Homo sapiens: one gene and its partners. The protein of the gene in region 4 interacts with the protein of the main gene of each other region in a pairwise test. Each region holds a gene or a part of one and is shown on either strand. Other genes may lie near its edges.

Region 1 (5,326 bases), on a different chromosome or scaffold from region 4:
AATAAAAGATGAAAAACCCACAAAGAGAGGAGCATTCCCCCCAAAACGATGTGTCACAGATCCAAACGAGCCTTTTGTAATTTGTCAAAGCCTACAGAAGAAGAGAATACAAAATTAACATTCTGAAAGCAACACAAACTAGGATACATAGGTTTTCACAATCCTCATCCCAAATGCTCTTTTCTAGTAGTTTCTACTAACCCTGTGCCTACTATAGAATCTACTGGTTATAGGATTAAATAATTTCTGGTAGGCAACCCTGAGATAGATTGGGGGCCTGAATGAATGTGAATGTTCTGATAGCAGGCAGCCCTCACTCGTAACAAATCCGGGGGAAAAAAATTAACCTTACACAAACTGAATACTCTGCCAAAGTACTAGCAAACATTGGCTAGTTTCATGCTTGTCCAAGAGTTTGTGTTTGATGTTTAACTTAAGGAAAAAAAGAGTACAGAGTAATTTAAAAATTATTTAAGTAACAATTGGTTGGGTGAGGTGGCTCCTGCCAGTAATCTCAGCACTCTGGGAGGCTGAGGTGGGCGGATCACCTGAGGTCAGGAGTTTGAGACCAGCCTGGCCAACATGGTAAATCCTCGTCTCTATTTAAAAAAGAAAGAGAAAAAAAATTTAAGTAACATTAGGTTACTTAAATAGGTAAGATGTTCACCTATAACTTGGAAACTATCCTTTGTCAAATCAGATTTTCTTTAGGAAATACTGAAACAACCTACCTTGCTTAAAGCTGAGCCTTGTTTCATGCATTTCTAACTAGAGCCCAATAGTCACCAAAAGATGATAGAGGCAGGGCGTGGTGGCTCACACCTATAATCCCAGCACTCTGGGAAGCCAAAGTGGGAGGATCATTTGAACCCAGGAGTTTGAAACCAGCCGGGGCAACATAGTGAGATCCCATCTTAATAAAAATAAAAAAAAGATGGGAAGACAGGTTGTCCAGGAAATCAGAGTGGGTATTTTATTTATGTATTTGACGGAGTTTCACTCTTATTACCTAGGAAATCAGAGTGGGTTATTTATATATGAGGCAGAGTTTCACTCTTATCGCCCAGGCTCGAGTGCAATGGCATGACCTCGGCTCACTGCAACCTCTGCCTCCCAGGTTCAAGAGATTCTCCTGCCTCAGCCTCCTGACTAGCTGGGATTACAGGCGCCCGCCACCATGCCTGGCTAATTTTCTGTATCTTTAGTGGACACGGGGTCTCACCAGGTTGGCCAGGCTGGTCTTGAAGTCCTGACCTCAGGTAATCCACCCACCTCGGCCTCCCAAAGTGCTGGGATTACAGGTGTGAGCCACTGAGCCAGCCCAAGTGGCTTTTTTTTTTTTTTTTTTTTTGAGATGGAGTCTAGCTTTGTCACCCAGGCTGGAGTGCAGTGGTGCGGTCTCAGCTCACTGTAACCTCCACCTCCCAGGTTCAAGTGATTCGCCTGCCTCAGCCTCCCGAGTAGCTGGGACTACAGGTGCGTGTCACCATGCCCGGCTAATTTTTGTATTTTTAGTAGAGACAGGGTTTCACCATGTTGGCCAGGATGGTCTCGATCTCTTGACCTCGTGATCCGCCCACCTCGGCCTCCCAAAGTACTGGGATTACAGGTGTGAGCCACCGCACCCGGCCCAGAGTGGGTATTTTAAAAAGATGGCCATCCTCATAATCTGATTAAACATTTGCTAATAAGGTATTATGGATAGTTTTATCAGAGTGATTAATGTACTTACTAGAAATTAAGAGTAAATGCTAAAAACATTTTACATTTTCAGAAATGTAAATACTTTCATATTCAAAACTGCTGGCAGTGTGGTGGCTCACACCTGTAATCCCAGCCTCCCTTTAGGAGGCTGAGGCGGGTAGATCACTTGAGGTCAGGAGTTCAAGACCAACCTGGCCAACATGGTGAAACTCCAACTCTACTAAAAAATACAAAAATTAGCTGGGCATGGTGGAGCATGCCTGTAATTCCAGCTACTTGGGAGGCTGAGGTGCACCAGAATCGCTTGAACCTGGGAGGCAGAGGTTGCAGTGGGCCGTGATTGTGCCACTGTACTCCAGCCTGGGCAACAGAGCAAGACTCTCAAAAAACAAAAACAACAAAAATCCCCCCTACAAAACTGTCAAAAAAGGCCAGGCACAGTGGCACAGTGGCTTGCGCCTATAATCCTAACACTTTGGGAAGCCAAGGCAGGAGGACTGCTGGAGTTCAGGAGTTCTGGACCAGCCTAGGCAACAAAGCAAGACCTTGTTTCTACCAAAAATTTAAAACATTAGGCAGGCGTGGTGGCATGTGCCTACAGTTCCAGCTACTCAGGAGCCCAGGAGAACCAGGCTGCAGTGAGCTATGATTGCACCACTGCACTCCAGCCTGGATGACAGTGAGACCTTGTCTCAAAAAGAAAAACAAATTGCTGAAAAACATTCTTTTTTGCTTTCATTATTTTAGGACTCTGAATTTAAGTACTGCTAATCTACCACATTACCCGGGAAGCTGCATTCAAGAACAACATTTACAGATTCTCGAATGAGACTACAACCTCCCACAAGAGATATTATTTACTGTCATTTATGCTAGTGGGTATTTTACCCTTTATTGCTATTATATATGGTGTGACATCAAATTTCCCCCAGGAAAGAAGATTTTGATTTCCCTCATTTAAAGGTTCCTCTTAGCTGTTCTGTCAGGGACGTACATGCTTGTTAAGGTTTCTCATCTTCTACAGGCTCGCTGTGGTATTCTGCCACATACAGGCTCTTATCAATGTTGCTCGGAATAGGTTTAATTTCTGTTCCCAGCTGCTCCTCAATACTTTTCAGGTTGAAGCGATCATCATATGTGATCAAGTTGATGGCTAAGCCAAGATGACCAAAGCGACCTAAAAAACATGCGTTTAAAAATTTTAATGAATAAAATATGAAAATCAATGTGAATTGTGCAAGTCAAGCAGTGGCAAAACCACACAGGATTGATAATGATGTTCAGTGCCATTCTTAGTATGCAAAACAACTTCTTAATGGTCTTCAAACACAGGTTTCCCTACAACTTCAGGTTTCGCAGCCCAAAATAGTACTTCATTTCACCTTTCTCAAATGACAAAATGGCAGTCAAAACTGCCATAAAATACACATTAAACAACAGTCACAGAACATACCACCTAATGAGTGAAGTTCTCATGTGTTAATTTCATCTCAAATTAAGCAGTTATTTTAACTTTTCTTAATAAATGCTACAGAAGAATTAGAAATTAGTCTTAAATACCAAACAACTGAATTACTGTTAATTCACTGTTCTCATAGCTACTGTACTCTATTTCACAAAAGAACAAAATTTAGTCATTACACGCCTCAAAAAAGAACTTCTACCAAGAATATCACCTCTTTTTTCCTCACCTGATCTTCCAATACGATGGAGATAGGTCTCTGCCAGCTTTGGGAAATCAAAGTTTATTACCACATTCACAGCTTGTATATCAATACCTCGGGTAAACAGATCTTAAAAAAAAAAAGATAATTTTCATTTTTTCAATTTAGAAATGTCTCTCAGTACAATACTAACACATATTTCTAGCATAACCTAAGTTTATTAATTTAATTCAGTTATTCAAATGCATTTGCACATTACTGGCATTACCTTTCATAATCACATTATCATAAATAACTTTCTGCTCCCAAGTTACTTTTTTCCAGTAATTGTAAGCAAGTTTTAAAAAATGTGTCTAAAAGAGGCTGGGTGCACTCAAGCCTGTAATCCCAGCACTTTGGGAGACCAAAGCAGGAAGATCACCTGAGGTCAGGAGTTCGAGACCAGCCTGGCCAACATGGTGAAATCCCTGTCTCTACCAAAAATACAAAAATTAGCCGGGCTAAGCGGTAGCAGGCGCCCACAATCCCAGCTACTTGGGAGGCTGAGGCAGGAGAATCACTTGAACCCAGGAGGTGGAGGTTTCAGAGAGCCAAGATCGCACCACTGCACTCCAGCCTGGGTGACAAAGATTCCATCCCCCTCCCCCCCCCCCCCAAAAAAAAGACAGAGATGAGGTATGAGTGCCAGAGTAAGTCTTCTAAAGTTTCAGATATGGAACCCAGTATCAGGAGCTGACAAGAGTTCATTTTCAACTTCAGAAATCCTAGAAGTAGTGGTAGGGTGTGTCGGACTATGTCACAGGTTGCACTATGTAATATGAACAGAGAAAGCAAAAAACAACTTGGGAGAAAAACACTGGGTAAAGGAAATACAAAAATACTTACCAGTGCAAACAAGATTGCGGCATAAGCCATTTCGGAAATCATGAAATACACGATTTCGATGTTCCTAGGAGAAAGCAATGTATTCCATTTGATTAACACTCATATACAGCCCCAAATTTCCCATAATTATTTCTCCCAGACGATCAGTTCTACCCAAAATCTGTTTATAAGTGATCCATGATATTAAGCTGCTTTCAAAACCAAATGAGTTAAGTTCTTGATATCTTCGTCTACAGAAACTGTTTACTTACGAAATTTCATAATGTAGTTAACAAAAAAGTCATTTTTGTTACAGTTTTAAATTATTTTTTGCTAAATCAAATTCTGAAATTTAGATATTGTATCTTTTTCTAAAGGCAAACAGTAAAGAAAAAAAGAAAAATCAGCCAGCTGAGGGGCCATATTTAAAAATCCAGAGCAGTGCTGTCCAGTAAAACTTCTATAATAAAGGAAATATTTGTGTCTGTACTTCCAATTCCAATACACTATCCAGTAGCAACAGGTGCCTAACTGAGCACTTGAAATGTGGCTGTGATTGAGAAACTGACTTTTTATTTTAATTTTAACTGATTTAAATTGCCACATGTGGCTATTTACTGTATTAAACAGAGAATTAAACATGGAAAGGAAGGGAAGAATAAAATTTTACATTTGTATCATGCCTGACAGCTTCCAAAGTACTCATTTAAACATTTATCTTAATTTTCCTAACAACCTTGTAAGTTATGAATATGTACTATTATCCCTATTTTATTGCTAGAAAATTGAACCTGAGGGAGGTCAAAATGAAAGGTCCTTTGGCTACTAAGGAACAGTTTATTCTTAAACTCAGGACATTTAAAAGAACATTAAAACAAAATAAAGAAAGAGATTTCTTATTAAATTTGTGCAAGTTCTAGTTTTATACTCACCTGCCTCATTTTAGCATGAATATAGAAGCAAGAATAACCCAGTTGAGAAATCTTCTTGGCTAGCAATTCAACTCGCTGAGAGGAGTTACAGAAAATGATCGACTGGTTTATCTGAAGCTGAGCACAGAAAAAAATAAGTATGAGAAAAATAAAAAAAACCTT
Region 2 (5,326 bases), about 11 Mb from region 4:
GTAGAATGGGAGAAAATATTTGCAAACTATTCATTCAACAAGGGACTAAACATCCAGAATATACAAGAAAAACAACTCAACAGCAAAAAAACAAAAAACCCTATTAAAATGTGGGCAAAGGATTTGAATAGACATTTCTCTAAAGAAGACATACAAATGGCCAAAAGGTGTATGAAAAAATGGTCGACACCACTAAATCACCAGGAAAATGCAAGTGAAAACCACAATGATTCATCTCACCCCAGTTAGAATGATTATCAAAAAGACAAAATATAACAAATGCTGGGGGGGATGTGGACAAAAGGGAACTCTCATATGCTGTTGGTGAGAATGTAAAATTAGTACAGCCATTATGGAAAACTAAATGGAGTTTTCTAAAAAACTAAAAATAGAACTACCATATTGTATATAGCACCCTTAACATAAGTAACTCCATTTTAGAAAGAGATTGCATCTCACATTTCAAAAGACATCATGCCCACAGGGACCCGATGTTCACCTTATCAATAAAGACTGCACTCAATCAGATAATGACATAAACAGGCACAATATTTCACTATCAGTTATCACCAGAAGATTCTGTGGCCACAAAAAGAGCAAGACTTTACCAGCTCAAAACAGCTGTCTTGATAACAGCCTGTCTGGCTGTCACTTGTGATCAGCACCTGGCATCTGTCACCAAAGGCTCCTCCTTGCAAGAATGTTGACAACCGTCCAGATCAGGCCAGAATATTCTCTTTGTCCAGTTGTTCTCTTTGGACTAGTTCTTTAGCCCCCCCCCCCTTTTTTTTCTATCCTTTTCTCCTGTTAAATGTTACTTTGTTTGATGTGGAATGTTTACACTGCAACATTTACATATATTAATACACTATTATGTATGGTTTGCAATACTGACTGACTTGTGGAGAGGCTTGAGCCTGTATGCCCATGGCTCTGACTATTGAGTGAACTGGTAGTACTAGGGGGAAATGCCTCCTTGGGAACTCCATGTAGCTTGTGGCTTTTATGACTGAAATAGCATCAATAAAAGTTTGCTCTTGTAGAAAAGACACAAACATGTATGGACCTGGTTATGTCTGACTTTGCACCACTCACAACACATATGATTCAGAAAGCACACTATTGGGTAATCTATCCAAAGGAAAGGAAATCAGTATGTGAAAGGGATACTTGTACCCCCATGTTTATTGCAGCATTATTCACAATAACCAAGATATGGAATTGACTTGAGTGTCCAACAGCAGATTAATGGATAAAGAAAATGTCAGAAATATATCCATCATGGAATACTATTCAGCCATAAAAAAGAATGAAGCCCTGTTATTTGCAGCAACATGGATAAAACTGGTGGTCGTTAAGTGAAATAATAGGCACAGAAAGACAAATATCTCATGTTCTCATTCATATGTGGGGTCTAAAAAAGTTCACCTCATGGAGGTAGAGAGTAGAACGATGGTTACCAGAGGCTGGGAAGGGGTTGGGGGTGAAGAATGTTTGGTTAATGGGTACAAACCATACAGTTAGGTAGAAGAGTAAGCTCTAGTGTTAAATAGCACAGTAAGGTGACTACTAAGTAACTAGTATGTAACTAGTTAAGTAATTAGCACAGTCGGGTGACTAGCACAGTAAGGTTCCTTAAACTTTAAAAATTTACTATATATTTCAAAGTAGCTAGAAGAATTGAAATGTTCCCAACACAAAAAATGATAAATGCTTGAGCTGATAGGTATACTAAATACCCTTATTTGATCATTACACATTATATGTATGTATCAAAGTATCATGTGAACCCTATAAATATGTAATCATGTATTAACCAAAAAAATTAATTTTAAAAAAAGCAAACTTACCCACCATGCCCTCGATTTTGTATTCCTTCTAACAAAGCCTCCATCACCAAATCCCCTTTGTTTTGGCAACTGACAAAGAAAAAAATATCAGTCATGAGACAATTCATTTCTTCAGTTCTAACATTCTAACTTACAACTTAAGAATGTGAATGAAAGCATACATAATAATGAAAAAATGCAGCACTTCTTAAGATGACTGTAGAAGCAGTCAAAGAACATCACTTCAGGAATACTAGGAACAAACTATTTCGGACTAAAACAGAATAACTTAAAAATATCTGAATTGCGGTTGACACTCTCTCCGTGTAAATATCAAATATCTCATTGTTCTTTGCCTAATTCCTAATGTCGGGTGAGCAGGGGTGGAGGTGGGATCTCTCTAGCAGACGGATACACAAACTCCCTTAACAAAATGAGAAAGAAATGGGTTCACACATGTCAGAGGGAAAGTATAGCTTTTTAAAAATTAAAGAGATAGTATAAAAAATGCGAAGTGTACTGAGATTAAACTCTTTGGTCTATCATGGGAAAGCCTACTCACTCCTGAAGACAGGCTCATAGAGCTTCCTGCATGCAACATCCTCTCTCCACCGAAAGGCAGCCACAGGGCCCTCCCACCTCTGCACTTCATTTGCTCCCAGTGCTTAATACGTTCTTTCATAGGAGTTGCACCACACTGGAAGTGAGTTTTTTACATACTATTTTTCCTTACTAGACTATTCATCCCTCCAGGGCAGAAACCCAATTTTATTCATCTCTGCAGCTGCAGAGCTCAACGCAGCATTTCAACATGGCACGTGGCAGATTATTTTGGCTGAACTTAACTCCCCTCCCTCTTTTACCTACCCTCTCCCCCATGCAAACTGGTCACAGCTGGGGAACTACATGAAGGGTCTAGCAGAGAAAGAGGGAACGGGAGATAGAAGACTGCCATATAAACAGCAAGATACAGTTGGGTGCGGTGGCTCACGCCTGTAATCCTAGAACTTGGGAGGCCGAGGGAGGCGGATCACCTGAGGTCAGGAGTTTGAGACCAGCCTGGCCAACATGGTAAAACTCCGCCTCTACCAAAAAAAAAAAAAATTAGCTGGGCATGGTGGCATGCACCTGTAGTTCCAGCCATGGGGAGGCTGAGGTAGGAAAATCGCTTGAAGTCGGGAGGCGGAGGTTGCAGTGATCCGAGATCACACCATTGCACTACAGCCTGGGTGGCAGACAGAGATTCCATCTCAAATAAATAAATAAATAAATAAATAAATAAATAAATAAATATAAAATAAAGGGTAAGATACACCATGAAGAAAGGTGACAGTGAGAAAGGAAAGAGGACCCTTAAACTCAGTAGTGTTGATTAATATGTGTATGCTTCTCGCCTTTTATAATAAATCTTCAAAATGTTCAATGTCAAACCACTTTTCATTCCAAAATGCTTTTTCCTTAAACCCTTAAGACAATAACCAGACTGTGGTGTAGAGGTTCTGCCCCTGGGCTAATCCTCATCTAAAAATTATACTGCTGTAAGAAGTAGATTATTTTACTCAACACGTAATTCAATGTTGTACTAACAACTAGATATATAGTGATGAAAGATATGGCCCCTTTCAAGGTATTAATAGTCTAGTATGGGACAGAAAAAAATGAGCCAAAAAGGCTTTCCCAGTGTGATAAATATAGTGAGAGACATGCCCAGGGTGTTCCAGAGACACAGAGGAGAATGAGAAGACTGGAAAATAGAACCACTGCACCTTATTTGCATCTATTTTTAAAGATACTAACAAACTGAGTATTAAATTATTTGTGCACAAACGTGACAGGGAGGATTTTTTTTCTAGTTGGTTTATCCTACATATTACACCAAAATTGCAAAAATAAAAACCTAAAGAAAAAGGTTCCCATGTTTTACTCCACTTTCAAATCACAATACAGTCCAACTACAATGCAACCAAGATTCCATGTTTTGGTCCACTCTAGGAGAACTGGGAGGCAGTACACGGTCCACACCACACTAGATGGAGACCCAGGATACAGTCCTACTCTGCAACTAACTAGCTTTATATTCTCGGACTTGTTTTAACATCTGCAAAATGAGGGGCATGAACAATATTCTCTAAGGTTTCTTCCAGCTTTTTCATGGGTTCTAACAGCCAATTAAATGTCCACTGTAAGTAGCATGCTCCTGACAACCATACACGGATACTTAACTAACATGTAGGAAAGTGCTATTCTTATTGACAGTGCTATCACAGTTATTCAAAATTATCATTAGTAAAATTATACTTATTTAGGTCATGTTATTCTTAAACATTAATATATTTAGTAATATACATTAATATATTTTCTATGACTATTTAATAATATACTTAGAAGTTAAGTTACTGAATGTTCAACAGCTGCCTTGTACACATTGTCTAAATCAATCTTCACTATACTCATAAAAGACAGATACTATTACTTTGAGAAAACAGGCTTAGAGAGTTAAATAACTTGACTATGATAAACTAAAAATTATAGTCCTGGATTCAACCTAGACATTGTGGCAATCAATTGAGTCACAATCGATGTGCAACCTTTATATATTTTACAGTATTCTATATCTTAAAATATATCAGCCTATCTTTTGGCTTAATAGTGTCTTTGCAATAAAAAAAGAAATTAAACTGAAGTATGACATCACTACTGTGGCCACCAGGTGGCAGCAGCACAATAATGAAATAGTCACATAAGAAATATTGCTATTTTAGAAATCAAAATGGTCTAAGATAGAGATTCCTGTTTAAAAAAAAAAAAAAAAAGGAGGGAAGTGGACCAGTAATATCCTATGTGAGAAATAAAGTAAACTTACTAATGTGCAAAGTGTTTCTGTAATACCTTCACCATCTGCCTGGTGCCAAACACCATCAATTCTCAGGATCAGGCAAATAGTAAGGGCTGATTTTCTGTGGATGTTTGTCATCTGAGTTGCTCATAGTTATATCACTGATTCTTTTCCTAACCAACCTGACCATCATTCAACTCTATGCACTATGTCACTTTGATTTCTTCTTTGCATGTGCCATATAATTACATAAAATTAGACCATCCTGGCTAACACGGTGAAACCCCGTCTCTACTAAAAATACAAAAATTAGCCGGGCATGGTGGCGCGCGCCTGTAGTCCCAGCTACACGGGAGGCTGAGGCAGGAGAATGGCGTGAACCCGGGAGGCGGAGCTTGCAGTGAGTCAAGATCGCGCCACTGCACTCCAGCCTGGGCGACAGAGCAAAACTCCGTCTCAAAAAAAAAAAAAAAAAAAAAGAATACAAATAGAATGTCTTATAATAGGCAAATCTTTGAAATTCATTAACATAGACTTTATGAGCTAGAAAGCACTTCAGGCCTCTAATTTAACTTTATCATTTTACAGATCAGGAAAAATATCATAGTATATGCCCAAGACCAAATTATTCACAAAATGGGACACAGGAAGAAAATAAAAA
Region 3 (5,326 bases), on a different chromosome or scaffold from region 4:
CCTGGTTCCAGCCCCACAATACTTTCCCAACCAGATCTGAACTGAGAAAAAGACATCACTACTCACATCCCCAGTTCCTGTTTTGCCTTTTTTCAAAACCAAGTGATTCTTTCCCCTCTTCATGTTTCAACTCAGGAGCTCAGTTATTAAACACATCCCCAAATATCCTACAACCCACAGGTAGATTTGTTTTTCAGTAAGACCCCAGAAGTAACATATGCTTCTAAGTCAACAGCACATGCTATAGGCAAAATGCAATCATCTTTCATACTACTAAGAAATTTCCCTAATATTTAAGTTATCTAATATAAATTCTTTGAAAACCCTAAATTAGGGCAAGTGGCTACTACCTATAAAAGATAAGAACTTAAAATGAATATGTGAGTTTAAAAAGTAAACAGATATTAAGATGTGGAGGCAAAGGGATAGTCTGTCCACTAACACTCCCCACCAAAGGAGTCAGCAGTCTTCTCAAAAAGCTCCCAATCTGACCTCCAAGCAGAGCTACTTCCTCTGTGCTTTTAATGCAGCAAGCATGTGCAAACCTCCTTCACAGGTGTTATGTACTGGACTGTCGTTATTGACAAAGATAGTCTCATTAACATCTATATCCCAAGAATAAAGTTTATACTCAATCACTGAAGAGGAAGGGCAAGGGAATTATTCAGACTTCTTTTCGTGGAAAGGGACTCAAGAAAATACTTAAAAGCACCCTTCAAATTCAGGATTAAAGGAAAGACGTTAAAAAGAAGGAAGTTCTGGAACCTGAAAAACTAAGAGTTTTTACCTCACCTTATCATAGGTAGCTGACGTAAGGTCATCATAGTCAGAAAGCCAGGGGTGGGCCTCAGCATCCCGTTTTGCCATCTCCTCCAACTCTGCCTGCAACTTGTCCCAGAAATCGACATCAGACTGTAAGGAAGGGAAAGCAGATAGAAAAAGGAGATCCATCATGACCACCCCACCCCACACTCAGCTCTGCTGGGATTCTCTAAGGCAGCAGTTCTTGAATTTCAATATGTTTAAGAATCATCTGAATAAGTTTTTTAAAATGCAAATGGCCAGATGCTATCCCCAGATACTGATTTAGTAGTCTGGGGTGATGGCCAGAAATGTAATGTAGTGCAGTGCAGTGCAGTGCAGTGCAGTGCAGTGCAGTGCATAGTTTAGTTTAGTTTTTTGTTTGAGACAGAGTTTCACTCTCGTTGCCCAGGCTAGAGTGCAATGGCGTGATCTCATCTCGTTGCAACCTCCACCTCCCAGTTTCAAACATTTCTCCTGCCTCAGCCTCCCAAGTAGCTGGGATTACAGGCATGCGCCAACACACCACGCTAATTTTGTATTTTTAGTAGAGACATGGGGTTTCTCCATGTTGTTCAGACTGGTCTCGAACTCCTAACCTCAGGTGATCCACCCACCTCGGGCTCCCAAAGTGCTGAGATTACAGGCATGAGCCACCATGCCTGGCCCAGAAATCTGCATTTTTCAACAGCACCCACCCCATCCCCAAGCAACTCTGACACAGATGATCCAGGTCCACTATGAAATACAATTTGCATCATCTTTGATGTTCATACACCCACTCACTCCAAGGAGTGTTTTCTTTTGGGGTGTCTGCTCCTGCACTATCTGCTCTCACCTCTATAGCTGACTTGGCTCGTTCAAACTCCATATCAAGGGCAGATGTGTTTACTGGTCTTGTGAACTGGTCAACCCAGGCATCTGATGTACCCTGCGACAAAAAAGGATGGTCAGTACCACTACCACCAACTTTCTATCCATCAGACGCACACTAAATACCCACTAACCACCACCAACCTGGGTACTTCTGAGAAAATCATTCTCAGAATCTCTTTCCCACCCACTTGGGACCTGGATGCTATCAAGACAAGCTGGTCTTATCCTTCCCCATCTGGGACCACTGACCACTGAACCCATGGCCTGGGGCATCAGCTGGCTCTGAAGTGGGACTGGAAAGTGACAATGTCCTACCTGCTGCTGTATAAACTCTGCTGCCCACTGTTCTGCCTGAGCTCGGCCCGACCCTGCACCGGACTCCAGGGACACCTGCCCTTCGCCAATCTGCCGCACGAATTTCAGGAACTGGGGCACAGAGACACACACAGGCCACTTGGGAAAGGACTTCCAGGTGTGCACTCTCAACCATGCCCAAGAGGACCCTGTACTCACCCCTCCCCTGACCATCTCTAGCTGCAGACAAGATATGCTAAAGACCCTAAAAGAGGTAGAGAGCAAAAAGAAAGGGATTTCTGGCTCTAAAGACTTGCAAAGGCATCAGAAAAAAGAGTTAGTAGGCAAGGAGATGAGGGAATGAACACTAGAAGGAAGAGGCAGGATCTTAAGTCTCTGTTCTATAGACAGGAACGAAGAGACCTAAGATCTCTTCTCCTTCTCTTTAAACTAAACTGGGGTAAGAAAAGCAAGATTCTTGCCTTCCAAAACCAGCTCTGCTGGGCAAAGCAGCAGAGGGATGTGGCTCACCTCAGAATTAGCCAATTTGGGGTCATCCACTTTGGCCACAAAGTCACTGGCCGTGTGCTGCAGATCCTCCTCAGGATGATATTCATCATACCTGGAACGGGTAAGAACTAATTTTACACATTAGTCTGCCATCACCCTCCCCATGCTACTCCCCACTCCTAGCCCATGACAATGACAGTTCCTGTGAGGGAACTCCATTCTCCTGTTGAGAACCTACAAACTCCAATTTGCATTATAGAAGGACATTTGGGCAGGAGTGTGAAAGTACTAGCTACATCCTTCTAGCTCTCCCTTTCCCAAACATATCTTTGCATACAGATGGGATAGTAGCAGGCTCAAAATTAAGAAGGGAACAAGGTAAAATTATGAACTTTAAGATGAAGTTATGAACGTCATATAGGATAGTTAGGATTCTTGAAAAATATATATATATTTACCTATATACATATATTTTAAAAGTCTGAAAACTCCCTTCCTCCCAAATATAGCTGATATGTATATATACGTGTATGTGTGTATGTATATACATGTGTATGTGTATGTGTGTATACATGTATGTCTATGTGTGTGTATACATGTGTACGCATGTATCTACATGTTTACATATGTATACGTGTGTATATACATGTATGTGCACATGTATGTGTATGTATGCGTGTGTACATATGTGTATGTGTGTATATATGTGTGTGCGTGTGTGTGTGTGCACGCACACATGCATGCGCTTTTGGTTTTTTAAAGACAAGGTCTTACTGTGTTCCTCGGGCTAGACTTGACCTCCTGGGCCCAAGCAATCCTCCCACCTCAGCTTCCTGAGTACAGGCACACAACCACTGTGTCCTTGACTACATTTCAACCATAAATTCACAGGAGTAATAACCCAAGGGGAAATCTTAAAGAATAAAGTAAGCCCTCTCCCTCTCCCTCTCCCTCTCCCTACGGTCTCTCTCCCCCTCTCTTTCCACGGTCTCCCTCTGATGCCGAGCCGAAGCTGGACTGTACTGCTGCCATCTCGGCTCCCTGCAACCTCCCTGCCTGATTCTCCTGCTTCAGCCTGCCGAGTGCCTGCAATTGCAGGCACGCGCCGCCATGCCTGACTGGTTTTCGTATTTTTTTGGTGGAGACGGGGTTTCGCTGTGTTGGCCGGGCTGGTCTCCAGCTCCTAACCGCGAGTGATCCGCCAGCCTCGGCCTCCCGAGGTGCCGGGATTGCAGACGGAGTCTCGTTCACTCAGTGCTCAATGGTGCCCAGGCTGGAGTGCAGTGGCGTGATCTCGGCTCGCTACAACCTCCACCTCCCAGCCGCCTGCCTTGGCCTCCCAAAGTGCCGAGATTGCAGCCTCTGCCTGGCCGCCACCCCATCTGGGAAGTGAGGAGCGTCTCTGCCTGGCCGCCCATCGTCTGGGATGTGAGGAGCCCCTCTGCCTGGCTGCCCAGTCTGGAAAGTGAGGAGCGTCTCTGCCCGGCCGCCATCCCATCTAGGAAGTGAGGAGCGCCTCTTCCCAGCCGCCATCCCATCGAGGAAGTGAGGAGCGTCTCTGCCCGACCACCCATCGTCTGAGATGTGAGGAGCGCCTCTGCCCCGCCGCCCCGTCTGGGATGTGAGGAGCGCCTCTGCCTGGCCGCGACCCCGTCTGGGAGGTGAGGAGCGTCTCTGCCCGGCCGCCCCGTCTGAGAAGTGAGGAGACCCTCTGCCCGGCAGCCGCCCCGTCTGGGAAGTGAGGAGCGTCTCCGCCCGGCAGCCACCCCGTCCGGGAGGGAGGTGGGGGTCAGCCCCCCGCCCGGCCAGCCGCCCCGTCCGGGAGGGAGGTGCGGGTCAGCCCCCCGCCTGGCCAGCCGCCCCGTCCGGGAGGGAGGCGGGGGGTCAGCCCCCCGCCCGGCCAGCCGCCCCGTCCAGGAGGGAGGTGGGGGTCAGCCCCCCGCCCGGCCAGCCGCCCCGTCCGGGAGGGAGGTGGGGGTCAGCCCCCTGCCCGGCCAGCCGCCCCGTCCGGGAGGGAGGTGGGGGTCAGCCCCCCGCCCGGCCAGCCGCCCCGTCCAGAAGGTGAGGGGCGCCTCTGCCCGGCCGCCCCTACTGGGAAGTGAGGAGCCCCTCTGCCTGGCCACCACCCCGTCTGGGAGGTGTACCCAATAGCTCATTGAGAACGGGCCATGATGACAATGGCGGTTTTGTGGAATAGAAAAGGGGGAAAGGTGGGGAAAAGATTGAGAAATCCGATGGTTGCTGTGTCTGTGTAGAAAGAAGTAGACATGGGAGACTTTTCATTTTGTTCTGTACTAAGAAAAATTCTTCTGCCTTGGGATCCTGTTGATCTATGACCTTACCCCCAACCCTGTGCTCTCTGAAACATGTGCTGTGTTCACTCAGGGTTAAATGGATTAAGGGCGGTGCAAGATGTGCTTTGTTAAACAGATGCTTGAAGGCAGCATGCTCTTTAAGAGTCATCACCACTCCCTAATCTCAAGTACCCAGGGACACAAACACTGCGGAAGGCCGCAGGGTCCTCTGCCTAGGAAAACCAGAGACCTTTGTTCACTTGCTTATGTGCTGACCTTCCCTCCACTATTGTCCTATGACCCTGCCAAATCCCCCTCTGCAAGAAACACCCAAGAATGATAAAAAAAAAAAAAAAAAAGAATAAAGTAAGTTGGTTCGAGAACGTGGATGGAGGAGGCTGGGAAAACTGTCCATACTCCTTTCACGGGATTCGGAAAGAGGTATCTGAACTCACCAGCGATCGGTGGCTGTTCCCTCAGGTTCTCCCAGCCACAGCTTCTCCTCTGATTGCTCCAAATATTCCTCAGCCCAGCGGGCAGGGGACACAGAC
Region 4 (5,326 bases):
TTGGCAATATCTGTCACAATTGCAACTGTATATACCCTTTGGCTCAACAATTCTACTGCTATAAATCTATCCTACAAAAATGCTGGCCAGGCGTGGTGGCTCATTGTCTGTAATCCCACACCTTGGGAGGCCGAGGTGAGTGGATCACTTGAGGTCAGGAGTTCAAGACCAGCCTGGCCAACATGATGAAACCCTGTCTCTAATAAAAATACAAAAATTAGACAGGCGTGGTGGCAGGCGCCTATAATCCCAGACACTTGAGAGGCTGAGGGAAGAGAATCACTTGAACCTTGGAGGCAGAGGTTGCAGTGAGACACGATCGCACCACTGCACTCCAGCCTGGGCCACAGAGTGACGCCGTCTCAAAACAAACAAACAAACAAACAAACAAACAAACAAAGCTGACATATATGCACAAAGACATATACAAAGATTTTCACTGCAATGTTGTTTGCACTGGGAAAAAAGGGGAAAGTACTATTAGCAAAGGACCATATTATGGTAGACCTGGATAAGCAGAATACCCAAGTAATTCTTAAAGAGAAAGATGCATAATTATGTATTTTGATAGACAAAAGTGTCCATTATATGTTAAGTGAATAAACAGAAGCTGTGGAAAAGTATGTACAGTGTGATCTCATTTTTAAAAAAGTACATATATAGTTCTATTTGTGCCTGGCACACAGTAGGTATTCAGTAAGTGTTAAATAAATCAATTATATATGAAGAGAAGATATGTAAAAGGAAACACACTCCTGTATTTCAAAACAAACAAACAAAAAAAGGTGTATATTATTGGGAAGTGACAGCATCTTTTATTTTCTTATGTTTCTACAATATTTTAAATTTATCCCCTCAAAGTAATTACAAAAGCTCAATTCTTTATCAACATTTCCGGAGCCACAAATAATTTATCAATCCTTAAAGTTCTTTTACCTACATTCAAGGTTGCAATCCACAGCACCAGATGGTTTTTGAGTTTTCTGTTGTTCTCTGAGTTGCTGGTTCAAAATTCTCAACTGCCTAAAGAAATAATGAAGAACTATGAATGCAAGCATACCAAGCCAATTTAATAGTATACATGTGATAGCCTATCAAAAAAGATAAAACATAAACCCACTAAGACAGCAGAAGTCCATCTCATCCCCAAAAGACAAAAACTAAATAAACAAAACAAAAACAAAACCATACTACTATTATTATGAGGCCTGAGATAATTTTTAAGGTTGCCTGAAACAACATAAAACCTCCCCTCATGGGCCAGGCGCGGTGGCTCACGCCTGTAATCCCAGCACTTTGGGAGGTCGAGGTGGGCGGATCACCTGAGGTCAGGAGTTTGAGACTAGCCTGGCCAACATGGCGAAACCCCATCTCTACTAAAAATACAAAAATTAGCTGGGCGTAGTGGCGCGTGCCTGTAATCCCAGCTACTTGGGAGGCTGAGGCAGGAGAATTGCTTGAACCTGGGAGGTGGAGGTTGCAGTGAGTGAGATCGCACCACTGCATTCCAGCCTGGCGAAAGAGTGAGACTCTGCCTCAAAAAAAAAAAAAAAAAAAAAAAAACCCTCATGAGGAAAGTGTTAATTTCTCTTTTTTGTCTCTTCAGTGATTTGTTGTTTTTTTTCTATTTCTTTCCTTTTCTATCTGCTCATGCTGTTTCTCATCGTCTTTCTGTGTATCTTCATCACTGTAGTTAATCATCTACTTTTTAAAAGATTTGTCATTACTATCAACTAGAATACCTACAAGCACTGACTGCTATCAGACATCTATCTGCCTGATGTTTGTCATATGCTGAAACACAAATCTATGCTTCTAATAATTTTATTAGATGGAAAAGTTAATGGTCTTAAGTAACGAGAATATTAACAGGCTACAAATCTGCCCTGTTACAATGAACTTCACAATATGTATCTGCTTCACAAATAGAAACATATGCAAGTGTTTTCTTTACTTCTAAGAAGTTATCGCTTATGGGGACAAAAGTTACCTCTATTATCTTTCCAGAATTACTTACCTAAAAATATTTTGCCTTAAAATATTTATTTTTGGTACTAACTCTAAAATGATAGTACCCTACCTCACATCACTCACATATATTAATTTCGAGTTGATTAAAGTGATAAAATATGTAAACAAAACCCAACTATACAAGTTTTAGGGGGAAATCTACATAATCTTGAAGTCGGGAAGGCATTTCTAAGTGAAACTCAATATCCAGCAAGCATCAAGGAAAAGAACGAAAGATTTAACCATAGCAAAATTTGAAACCTGTAGAATTAAAAGCCTGAAAGAAAATACCTGCACATATGTTATAGACAAGGGGTCCATAACATTTAAAGAACTCCTACAAATCAGTAAGGAAGGCAACCTAGTAAAAAGTGACAAAGGATAAGAATGAGCAGTTCACCTAAGAAATAGAAATGGCCTATAAGCATATGATAAAAATGCTCATCTTCACTAACATGAAGAATTGCAAATTTAAAAGAAGGTACTTTTTGGCCATAGAATTGACAAAAATAAAAAGAAATAACATTTTCTGATGATAGTACAGGAAATGAATTAACTCAATTCATGTGATTATATCAGTATAACCATTCTGGATGGCAGTTTGAAATGTCCAACAAAATGTAAAATGTTCATAATCTCTGACAAAATTATTCTACTTCTAGGTTATCAAGCATCAGAAACAGTTTTACATGTGCAAAAGCATCTCCCACCTTGTAGATACATACAAGGATGTTCACAACAGCAATTATTTAATAGTGCCAAGTTGGAAACAACTTAAAATGCTACATAAATTATGGTACATCCATATATGAAATACTAATACACAGATAATAAAAAAAGCGAGAGGTCCACTTGTACTGACGTGAAAAGATCTCTGAGACACATTATGAAGTGAAAGCAGCAAGCTGCAGAACAACAGTATAATGTGAGCTTATTTTTGTTTTAATAAAATTCTGATTTTCTTTAAAGGTTTCCCCTTTACAACAGAAGCTTTCCTCGATAATCCTTTTGTATGTCCCTGGTCAGATTCTTCTCTTCCCAAACGTAACCAATCTAAACTTCTAATAATTCACTGCAAGCCTCTCATTCCTACCCTCCTCTTCTCAATTGTATACTTTCCTTTTTTCACTAAAAATAATGTGGTTTGGGGACAAACACAGTCATCCTTTGGTCCCAGGGTGTATCCATATGTGTATTAGCCCTCATTTTTTCCATCTAGTCTGATGAGTAGCCTTATCTGTGCCCTGGATCCCATTCTCCTCCTAGACCATCAAGGACTCTGCTCCTATCCCACTCCCTTTATCTTCTGTATCTGCAGTTTCTCCCTCTTTGCCAGTTCATGTGCCTAAGCCAAGAAACATATTAAAACTCTTCCCATATTTTAAAAAAATTCCCTCCAACCTAACTGTACAAGTAGCTACTTTCATTCCTCTCATTCCCTGCTTTCAGGGCTAGGCTTTTAAAAAAATATTCTATTTAAAATGATACATGATAAAAACAGAAAAAAGGATATTTTAAAAATTGATGTTACACATGCTATTTTAAGATATGTACGAAATTTAAATATACTGGATTTTAAAAAAGGAAAAGAACTGCTGCTACTTAGGCAAATATTTCTTTTATTCAAGTCATTCTTTTTTTTTTAGACAGCTTGAGATAAAACTGACATACTATAAACTACATAAATTTAAAGTGTGTCATTTTATTTTCTGCCATATGATGTAGTAAAACCACCATCACAATTAAGATATCCATCAGCAGCCATAAAAAAGAATGAGATCATGTTTTTTTGCAAGAACATGAAGGGAACTGGAGGCTATCATCCTTAGTAAACTAACGCAGAAACAAAAGCAAATACCACATTCTCACTTATAAGTGGGAGCTAAATGATAAGAACTTATTAACACAAAGAAGGAAACAACAGACACTGGGGTCTGGATGGTAGGAGGGAGGGGAAGGTGGTAGGAGGGAGAAAAGCAGAAAAGATAACTATTGTGTACTGGGCTTAATACCTGGGTGATGTAATAACATGTATAACAAACCTCCTGTGACACGTGTTTACCTATGTAACAAACCTTCACGTGTACCCTCAAAGCTAAAAATTTTTCAAAAAACATATTCATCACCCCTAAAGTTTCCTCATAGCCCTTTTCATAACTCTCTCCTCCCAGATAAGCACTTATTTATAGTTTGCATATTCTAGAATTTTATATAAATGGAATTATGGAATATATACTCTTTTAGCCTGGCTTCACTCAACATAGTAATTTTGGGATTCATCCATGCTGTTGCATGTATCAATAGTTCTTACCCTTTTATTGTTGAGTAGTATTCTACTGTATGGATATAGCACTATTTGTTTATCCATTCACCTATTGATAGACATTTGGGTTGTTTCCTATGAACACTCATCAACAAGTTTCTGTGTGGACACATGCTTTGGCTTCTCTTAAATATCTAGGAGTGGACTGGCTGGATCATATGTTAGATATATGTTTAATTTCTAAGAAACTGCCAAACTTTTTTTCCAAAGTGTTCAAATTATTTTACATTCCCATCAGTTAATTGTGAAATCCTTCACATCCCAACATTTATTAATTTTGAATTTTAGCCATTCTAATGGGTATGCAGTGGTATTTTGTCATGGTTTTAATTTTCACTTTCCTAATCATTACTGATAAGCATCTTTCTATATTCTTATTTGATATTCATATTTGATATCCACTTATTTGGTGAAGTGTCTGTTCAAATATTTTGCCCATTTTTCAACTTGATATTTAAAAATTTATACTGTCTTAAGTTCTTTATACATTCTAATACAAGTCCTTTATCGGGTACATGTTTTACAAATATTTTCTCTCAGTCTGTTGGTTGCTTCTTCATTTTTAATAAGTGTTTTTTGAAGAACTGAAGTTTTAAATTTTGATGAAGTCCACTTTACTCATTTTTTTCTAGTTTATATTTTTTGTGTTGTATTTTTAAAATCTTTCCCAATCCAAAATCCCTAAGATTTTCTCTTACGTTTCCTTTCAGAGGTTTTGTAGTTTTAGTTTATACATTAAGATCTGTGATTCATTTCAAGTCAATTTTGTATACTGTATGAGGTAAAGGTTGAGGTTCATTTTTTAAAAACATGACTCTCTCATTGTTTCAGCACTATTTATTGAAAAGAGTATTCTTTCCCCACTGAATTTCTCTGATATCTTTGCAAAACACTATCTCTATGTGTGAATTTGTTTCTAGACTCTATTCTGTTTCAGTGATCTATTTGTCACCTTTACACCACACCTCTTAGAATACTATTCCTTTATGTTTT

The links. The genes of interacting proteins can lie anywhere in the genome.
Region 1: the proteins of CCDC14 (region 4) and DDX6 interact in binary tests that used the Homo sapiens proteins (3 or more experiments, as listed by UniProt).
Region 2: the proteins of CCDC14 (region 4) and CEP63 interact in binary tests that used the Homo sapiens proteins (3 or more experiments, as listed by UniProt).
Region 3: the proteins of CCDC14 (region 4) and PEX5 interact in binary tests that used the Homo sapiens proteins (3 or more experiments, as listed by UniProt).

Annotation. Positions count from the first base shown.
Region 1 is NC_000011.10:118,752,007-118,757,332, forward strand, and holds part of DDX6 (probable ATP-dependent RNA helicase DDX6), read right to left. Parts: intron 5,282-5,326; coding exon 5,165-5,281; intron 4,318-5,164; coding exon 4,254-4,317; intron 3,498-4,253; coding exon 3,396-3,497; intron 2,882-3,395; coding exon 2,706-2,881; 3' UTR 2,699-2,705; intron 92-2,698; 3' UTR 1-91.
Region 2 is NC_000003.12:134,491,889-134,497,214, reverse strand, and holds part of CEP63 (centrosomal protein of 63 kDa), read right to left. Parts: intron 1,920-5,326; coding exon of another isoform or gene 1,895-1,919; coding exon 1,851-1,894; intron 1-1,850. UniProt on the Homo sapiens protein: Required for normal spindle assembly.
Region 3 is NC_000012.12:7,199,018-7,204,343, reverse strand, and holds part of PEX5 (peroxisomal biogenesis factor 5), read right to left. Parts: coding exon 5,231-5,326; intron 2,594-5,230; coding exon 2,503-2,593; intron 2,104-2,502; coding exon 1,993-2,103; intron 1,733-1,992; coding exon 1,640-1,732; intron 913-1,639; coding exon 793-912; intron 1-792.
Region 4 is NC_000003.12:123,932,733-123,938,058, forward strand, and holds part of CCDC14 (coiled-coil domain-containing protein 14), read right to left. Parts: intron 1,024-5,326; coding exon 941-1,023; intron 1-940. UniProt on the Homo sapiens protein: Negatively regulates centriole duplication. Negatively regulates CEP63 and CDK2 centrosomal localization.